2 linked regions of the Homo sapiens genome follow. Changing the gene in region 2 together with the main gene of any one other region gives a genetic interaction. Each region holds a gene or a part of one and is shown on either strand. Other genes may lie near its edges. The genes, in order: FGFR2 and MAP3K1.

Region 1 (3,824 bases), on a different chromosome or scaffold from region 2:
CCCGCCTTGCCCTCCCAAAGTGCTGGGATTGATTACAGGTATGAGTCACTGCACACAGCCTTCAACTGAATTTTCAAATCTAAAATATCAGTTGGAGCCTGACCCCACTGGTTTTGTCAGTATATCATAATAGAAATATTCTACTGTGTTTCTAGAATGCTATCAAGGATGCCAAAGCAAGATCAGACCTTTTTGTTGAGGGATAAACATAGAGAGTAGACCCTGTGGAGGTCCCCAGCCTGGACCACATCTCACTCAGCTCCACTCTTTAAGGACAAATCTGGGTTAGAGGGAAATATGACAAACTACTCGTAAGTGGGAAAAGCTCCAGGATTACTCCTTTAATGGAGTGAAGAACATGCCAAGAGCTTGGCGAATTAGATAACCGCTTTGTAGTTGCACATCCATGAATATGTTCAAGGGAAGGACTTCCGCTCTGGCAGGGGGAGGTCAGCAGTTCCACCTTCTGTGCTCTTTGAAGCCAGGCAGATTAGTAACAGAGCATTGGTTATCAGCCTACCATAAAATCTGTCCTTTCTAAGGCCAGCTCCTGCACCTTCTACGAATGTGTGAAATGCAGCAGCCACTAAAGAAGGAAGAAAGGTGAAGTACGTACAGTATTTTTGCAGCTCAAGCCCAGGAAAAAGCCAGAGAAAAGAGAGTTACTCACACATCACTCTGATGAGTGTATACTCTATCAAACAGGGCTTCTGGAGCCATCCACTTGACTGGAAGCCGCCCCTGCAAATGTAGAGGAAAATGCAAAAACTAAATATATTTAAAAGAATTTATCTTAGCAGGCTCAATAGGGCTATGCCCTGTTTAAGAGCTGATATTCTCGGTTTTTACTAGTCAGTCAATAGAGCAGAAATCAGTCCCAATGAGGACCATGAACAATGTGTGAGATGCACAGGTCTGGGCCGTTAATAAAATGCCATCTCCTTGGATTCTATCCTTTATCTCCCTAGCACACAGATGCTCCTTGACCAGTTATTAGGCAAAAATTAAACCAGTAACTTCCAAGCTGTAGTTTTTGCTATGAAAGTTCTTGATGAGAACCATAAGAAAATCCTAGCGGTTGCTGATTATTCTGTATATAAGTGTTTCACATTTACTAAAATTGACATAATAGAGGCTAAATTTGCATATTGAGAGTTTGTGAATAGTAAGTCAAAAGAACGGGAATCGGGGCAGGGGAATGGGTCCCCAGCCATCCCACCCAGCTCTCAACATTGACGGCCTTTCTTCCTGGAACATTCTGAGCCTCACCCCCGCCCCTGCCCACTGTGTTACTGCCATCGACTTACATTGGTGGTCTTTTTGTAATAGTCTATATTGTTGATATCTCTGGCGAGTCCAAAGTCTGCTATTTTCATCACATTGTTTTCTGTTACCAAAACATTTCTGGCTGCTAAATCTCGATGAATACACTGAAATCAAGAAAGAAGCAAGAGAAATAACTAATTTCAAAACACCGCCAGAACAAAAAGGAAATATGTTCATTTCTTAAAATGCAGATAGAAAATATAGCTGATGTTAAAAACCAGTTGCGGTATACTATAAGAAATACAGTGTGGCCGGGTGCGGTGGCTCATGCCTGTAATACCAGCACTTTGGGAGGTCAAGGTGGGCGGATCACTTGAGGTCAGTAGTTCGAGACCAGCCTGGCCAACACGGCAAAATCCCATCTCTGCTAAAACTACAAAAATTAGCCGAGCGTGGTGGTGTGCACCTGTAGTCCCAGCTACTCAGGAGGCTGAGGCACAAGAATCACTTGAACCTGGGAGACAGAGGTTGCAGTGAGCTGAGATCACGCCATTGCACTCCAGCCTGGGTGACAGAGTGAGACTCTGTCTCAAAAAAAAAAAAAAAAAAAGAAAGAAAAGAAAAGAAAACGCAGTGTGGCTCTAAGATTAAGAAGACAGGTCAACTGGGATCATCGGAGAGCCTGGATCACGACATGTATTTGTTTTGGAATTATAAATAAATAGAATGATCATTTTGAAGAGCGAAGGTAGACTAAATAACCATATTCTCTTCTACCTCCAGTTGTCCAGCCACACCAGTGTCTTTCTTTCAGCTGCTTATAGATCTGTATCTGATCATCCTAAAATCTTTTCTCTCAACACTTGCTCTCCTGCCCTTTAAACCTGAATTTTCAGAAGCGTTGGTTAAAATCCAACATTGTGTCTTCTTCATTCCTGGTCACTTCTCAAACATTCTAATCTGTGTTCCACTCTTGCCTCTCCTGAAGCTTATGAAGAACCTCTGAATTGTTAGACGCAAATGACGTCCTCCAACTCCTCAGTTGTTCCTCCTCTGTGGCTTCAGATGCTATTGATTTCTTGCTTGTTTTTTAAAATGGTCCCTCTGTTTAGGTTTTCTTGTTTTTGTTTTTTTTGTTTTAACATGGAGTCTTGTCCTTGTCGCCCAGGCTGGAGTGCAATGGTGCGATCTTGGCTCACCGCAACCTCCGCCTCCTGGGTTCAAGCGATTCTCCTGCCTCAGCCTCCCGAGTAGCTGAGACTACAGGTGCCTGCCACCACACCCGGCTAATATTTTGTATTTTTAGTAGAGACGGGGTTTCACCATGTCGGTCAGGCTGGTCTCGAACTCCTGACCTCAGGTGAGCCATCCGCCTCGGCCTCCCAAAGTGCTAGGATTACAGGTGTAAGCCACCACACCCAGCCCCTCTGTTTAGTTTTATCCCGTCCCCTTCCCTCAGCTGCCTCTCTGTCTCTCCCTGCCCTCTTAGAATCTCTGGCTGGCTCTTCTCTTTTTCTGTCCCTTCAAATAGAGGAATTGTTCCATTAAGTTTATGTATTTCCATATATCCTCAAGGCATTAATTCTAAACACATACAAAATATGCGCAAGTTCGTATCTCCATCATGACCTCCCTCCTGAGACCCATGTTCTCATTTTCAACTGTCTATGGGACACTTCCCCACTGACATTCCCTTGACGTCTCAAATTCAAGGTTTCAACTCCTCCAATGCTTTGTCTCTCTTAATCGGAGAGCTATACACCGGTATTCTTTACACATTCCTCCCAAGTCCTGTTGATTTCAACTCCAAAATGCCTTCCCATGTGTCCACACCATGCCTTTCCCACTGCTAATGCCTTAGTCCAGGCCATCTTCACTGTCTGCCCCTCCCCCTGAGACTTCCACACTGCCCGTCTAGCGGGTCTCTACGCTTCCAAACTTAGCCCTGTTGTACCTCCTCCATGTCCCATGACTAAGGTTCCTGAAATGACTAGTCATGTCCTTTCTTGGTCTCTACCATGGCCAATGCCCGTCTATCCACGTTCTCAGTCCAGTTTCTCCTAACACCTGGCCTCAGCCTGAATGTGCCACATACACTGATTCTAAACACTGAAATATTAAATACTTGCTGCAGAACAGCTAATTTATTGTCTTGACACTAACTCTTGGGTCTCAGAAAGATCTAGCTATTACGACTTTTCCTTCTTTTTTTTTTTTTTTTTTTTTTTTTTGAGACGGAGTTTCACTCTTGTTTCCCAGGCTAGAGTGCAGTGGCACGATCTTGGCTCAATGCAACCTCTGCCTCCCAGGTTCAAGTGATTCTCCTGCCCTCAGCCTCCCAAGTAGCTGGGATTGCAGGTGCCCACCACCACATCAGGCTAATTTTGTATTTTTGGTAGAGATAGGGTTTCACCATGTTGGTCAGGCTGGTCTCAAACTCCTGACCTCAAGTGATCCACCCGCCTCGGCCTCCCAAAGTACTGGGATTATAGGCGTGAGCCACCACGCCCGGCCTATGATTTTTCCTTTCTACAAATGATACGCTACTGTGAGCTGCT
Region 2 (3,824 bases):
AGGAGAATTGCTTGAACCTAGGAGGCAGAGGCTGCAGTGAGCAAAGATTGCGCCACTGCACTCCAGCCTGGGCAACAGAGCAAGACTCCGTCTCAAAAATAAATAAATAAATACCAAACGATATACAAAAACTCCTAAAAAAAGACAGTTCTTGCCTTCAAAACTCGTCTTAAGCTAGATCATGATTAAAATCTCACTACAGTAAGTTAATCTTCAGATATACTAATTTAACCACTTTTGGAAAATTAATTCATGTTAACATTTCTGGGTACCTAATATTCATGGGTGCCAGACACTAGTCTAGATGCTGGGAGATGGTGCAAAGAATCAGATAAAGTTCCTGGTCTGTTAACAACTGATGTTTAGTATTCAGAATACCATAAGACCAGTTTGAAGATTATGTGTTAACATATAACTTAAATTATTGTTTAGGCAATGAAGAAAAGTAAAGCCAGACACAGTGGCTTGCACCCATAGTTCCAGCTATGTGGAAAGATCACCTGAGCCCAGGAGTTCGATTCCAGCCTGGGCAACATAGTGAGAACCCATTTCTAATTTAAAAATAAAAAAAGAAAAGTAATGATAACATCTGTCAAGAGCAAAGCTTCCACCTACACCCCAGTACTGACCCTGTTCTCACTCCATGTCTATCCATCATTATGCTTACAAGTGATGAACTTAGTTAACGTACTAACTACAGTACTGTGTAGGCTGTCCCATGTGGCTCCAAGCACTTTCTCCAGGCTTCAAGAGGTCTGGTGGCTTAGTAATTCCCAGGTGACAGATGTGTACTTGCAGAATTATACACTTGGTGAGTTTTAACAATTCCCCTTAGTATGCTACAACATCTCCACATCTCGATCAAATTAACATCTGCATCAAACCAGCCTGGTATTCCAAAGGACTCAATCACTAACAATACAGAACTCCCTTCCATACCAAACATAACTCAATCACCAATGACATGCCATAGAGTAAATAAAGACAAGGCTATCTTCTTGATCATCTTATGCCCTAAAGAATATTTTATATTTCTCCATGTTGTTTTCGTAACTAGTAGAGTTGCTGTTACTAATAATAAAGACAGAATTTCAGAACTAGCAGTAGCAGATGTTGAATTTCTTGCTCCCCGTATCTCCTTTTTAATTTTCCCTTGGAAGAAAAAAAAACATGCCTGAACATGCAGTGTTGTATATATTCTTATCAGAAAATAGGCAGAAATAGTTTGAAACTAATATGTTGTATCCCCTCTGTATCCCCATCTCTCTTATAGCACTTAACACGGTATTGTGAAACATGTTCATACTACAACCTACCGACAGAAACAGCTTGTGCACTCATGATCTTTTTCTCCACCACTCAAGACCACCACCTTGCAGAAGTTCATAAATGTTGAATGGATGAAATCTAAAACAATAACAAAGGGGTAGGGTCTAGCAATAGTAAAAGTTTCTCTTCCTGTGTGATTACCATGAATGAACCATATTAATTTCAGCTTATCTCCTTTCACTTATGATTTAATACAGCACAAATCAATAAATCTAAGAAACATTCAACACTAATGACTAACCCTCTTTGGCTGACATGATAGGGTGATCCAAATACAGTTTACTTGTATTACATATACAAGGCCAGGTTACAGAAACATACCTATTATATACATTAACAGGCAAACTTAGCACAGGGTAGAGACCTAGCTCATGGTCTATTAGAATGCCTGCAAAACAAATTTCTCCTTAAAAATAATCAATTAATTTGATTATTAATTTGAAAAAAGAAAATGGAAGAAGCAGAGTAGTGGAAAGAAATGGACTGTGGAGTCAGTCTGACTTGGGATTGAATCCTAGCTGTCTTCTAGTTGTGTAATCATGAGGTTTTACCATCTCAGATGAGTTTGCACCTACAGAAAACAGAAATTACACTATCTTAGGGGGCTGCAGTGATGATCAAATGAGATTATATATAAACATATATATAATACATATAATAGATATCATACACACACACAGAAGGCAAAAGAGTTGATTATGTAAAAGGTATCTAGGCATATCTATATGCTCAATGAGTATGTTTTAAGCCACAGATAAAATCCTAATATATTTTTGCAAACTGAAAAGAGTATCTGACTAATCTCATGCTTTGCAATGAACCATTTACTAATTCCGGCCCTGATTATTTCTTTCATGATTAAACATGTTCTTAAATAATTTCTTAAAGACAACTTTGGGTTACTCCTAATCTTACACATTTCCTCACATTAATAGTCTACCATTTACATGTTTAAGTTGCTTTAGCTTTTAACTTAGGATATAGAAAGAGGCAAGGACTAAGGAAAACAACCAAGTCTATACTTGATATATTTGATAGAAGCAAAGAATTCCAAGATTAGAGGTGTAATATACACGCAGTTCCTAAGCAGCCTCTAGAGACTACTACTTTTCCATGACACATTTTCCCATCGCCTTCTGTGTAACAGACAGCCCTCAACCCAAGAAGATGACTGGAGTACAAAATGCAAAAGAGGTGCTTTCTACCTGAGAGCATTTCTGAATGCCCCATATTTTTCCTCATGGTAATCCATTCCCCATTAACTACCTTGCCACCCCCTCATTTCTTCCTTTGGGATGCACACAGCCAGTGTCAAGGACTGATTAGCCGACTCAGCCTAGGCAAGCTGTAGCTGGTTTTTTTTTTGCTCTTGTTGAAAGCAAAAAAACACTCCTTTCTTCCCACATTTTGAAATCTGCAAGTTGACAAGTCAGTGGCCATTTCTAAAATATGCAACATATTATGCTCGAGGTGCTATGGAAGTTGTAAATGAATATCAATGAACAGGGCTACTTCCTGTTTTTCGTATCTAACAAAATGGAGTTTTAGTGCATTGGAAATCGTATATTAAGGAATGTTGGTTAACCAGTCACTCTTGCCAAAATCAGATATGAAAAGAAAATAAAAGTTGGCAACAATTCTAGCTCTTATATTTCTCTTCCAGAATTATATTAAGGTTCATCTTTGAAGAATGCATTAATTTTCTTATCTGATTTAAAATGAAACTGACACCATTCTTAACTAAAAACTTACAAATTCACGGAAGACTAACTTATGTGACTACCTTTATTTTTATAAAGTCACCCACTTAATATTTTAAGAGTAATTTTTAGGTAATAATGCTCTTATACCTCCTCTTTAGTAAAAGGTCACTAAATCATATTTTTAGCCTAATAGCTTTAAAAAGGAAGTGAAATCTGAGGGCTATATGAGGATATAAAAGCAGCCTGTGAAATACCTTTAGTTTTAAACAAAAACTAACATTAACAAGTACAGCATATCTTGTTCTTTCACGGGGCCAGCAAATTGATAGTTTGGTTTTTTAAGTTACAAAAATAGGATGGGGTAATTATATCTACCAAACTCACAATAGGCTGTTCAATGGAGAGTAACACTGTAATTTTTCTTCAAAGACAGTAAATAGGAAGAAAAAGCCCCTAAATTCTGTAATATAAGGAAAAATTCCAAACCCTTGGGCGCCACTTACAGGCACTTTCACTGATTTCAGCTATCACCCTGAAAAAGAGGGACAAACTTAAAATCTTCTATTTAAATACGAGTATTATTTATTTATATAAATTCTAATTCAAAGTATATTTTCTACATTCAAAGATCAGAAGGAAATTCTAAAATTAAAAAAAAGATCACAGAACTCTCAAATATTTCAAAATCTTAGATTTTCCTCTTGGAAGTATGAATGTAACTTAACTGTCAAAAAAAAGTAAAACATAAAGTTCAATTGATATTTTATTGAGTTGGCTATAATTAAGGGTTTT

What was found.
Region 1: changes in MAP3K1 (region 2) and FGFR2 together harm fitness more than expected from each alone (negative genetic interaction), as found in Homo sapiens cells (one large-scale study listed by BioGRID).

What each region holds. Positions count from the first base shown.
Region 1 is NC_000010.11:121,486,684-121,490,507, forward strand, and holds part of FGFR2 (fibroblast growth factor receptor 2 isoform 1 precursor), read right to left. Parts: intron 1,431-3,824; coding exon 1,308-1,430; intron 742-1,307; coding exon 671-741; intron 1-670. UniProt on the Homo sapiens protein: Tyrosine-protein kinase that acts as a cell-surface receptor for fibroblast growth factors and plays an essential role in the regulation of cell proliferation, differentiation, migration and apoptosis, and in the regulation of embryonic development.
Region 2 is NC_000005.10:56,818,309-56,822,132, reverse strand, and holds part of MAP3K1 (mitogen-activated protein kinase kinase kinase 1), read right to left. Parts: intron 1,901-3,824; exon of another isoform or gene 1,388-1,900; coding exon of another isoform or gene 1,317-1,387; intron 1-1,316. UniProt on the Homo sapiens protein: Component of a protein kinase signal transduction cascade. Activates the ERK and JNK kinase pathways by phosphorylation of MAP2K1 and MAP2K4. May phosphorylate the MAPK8/JNK1 kinase.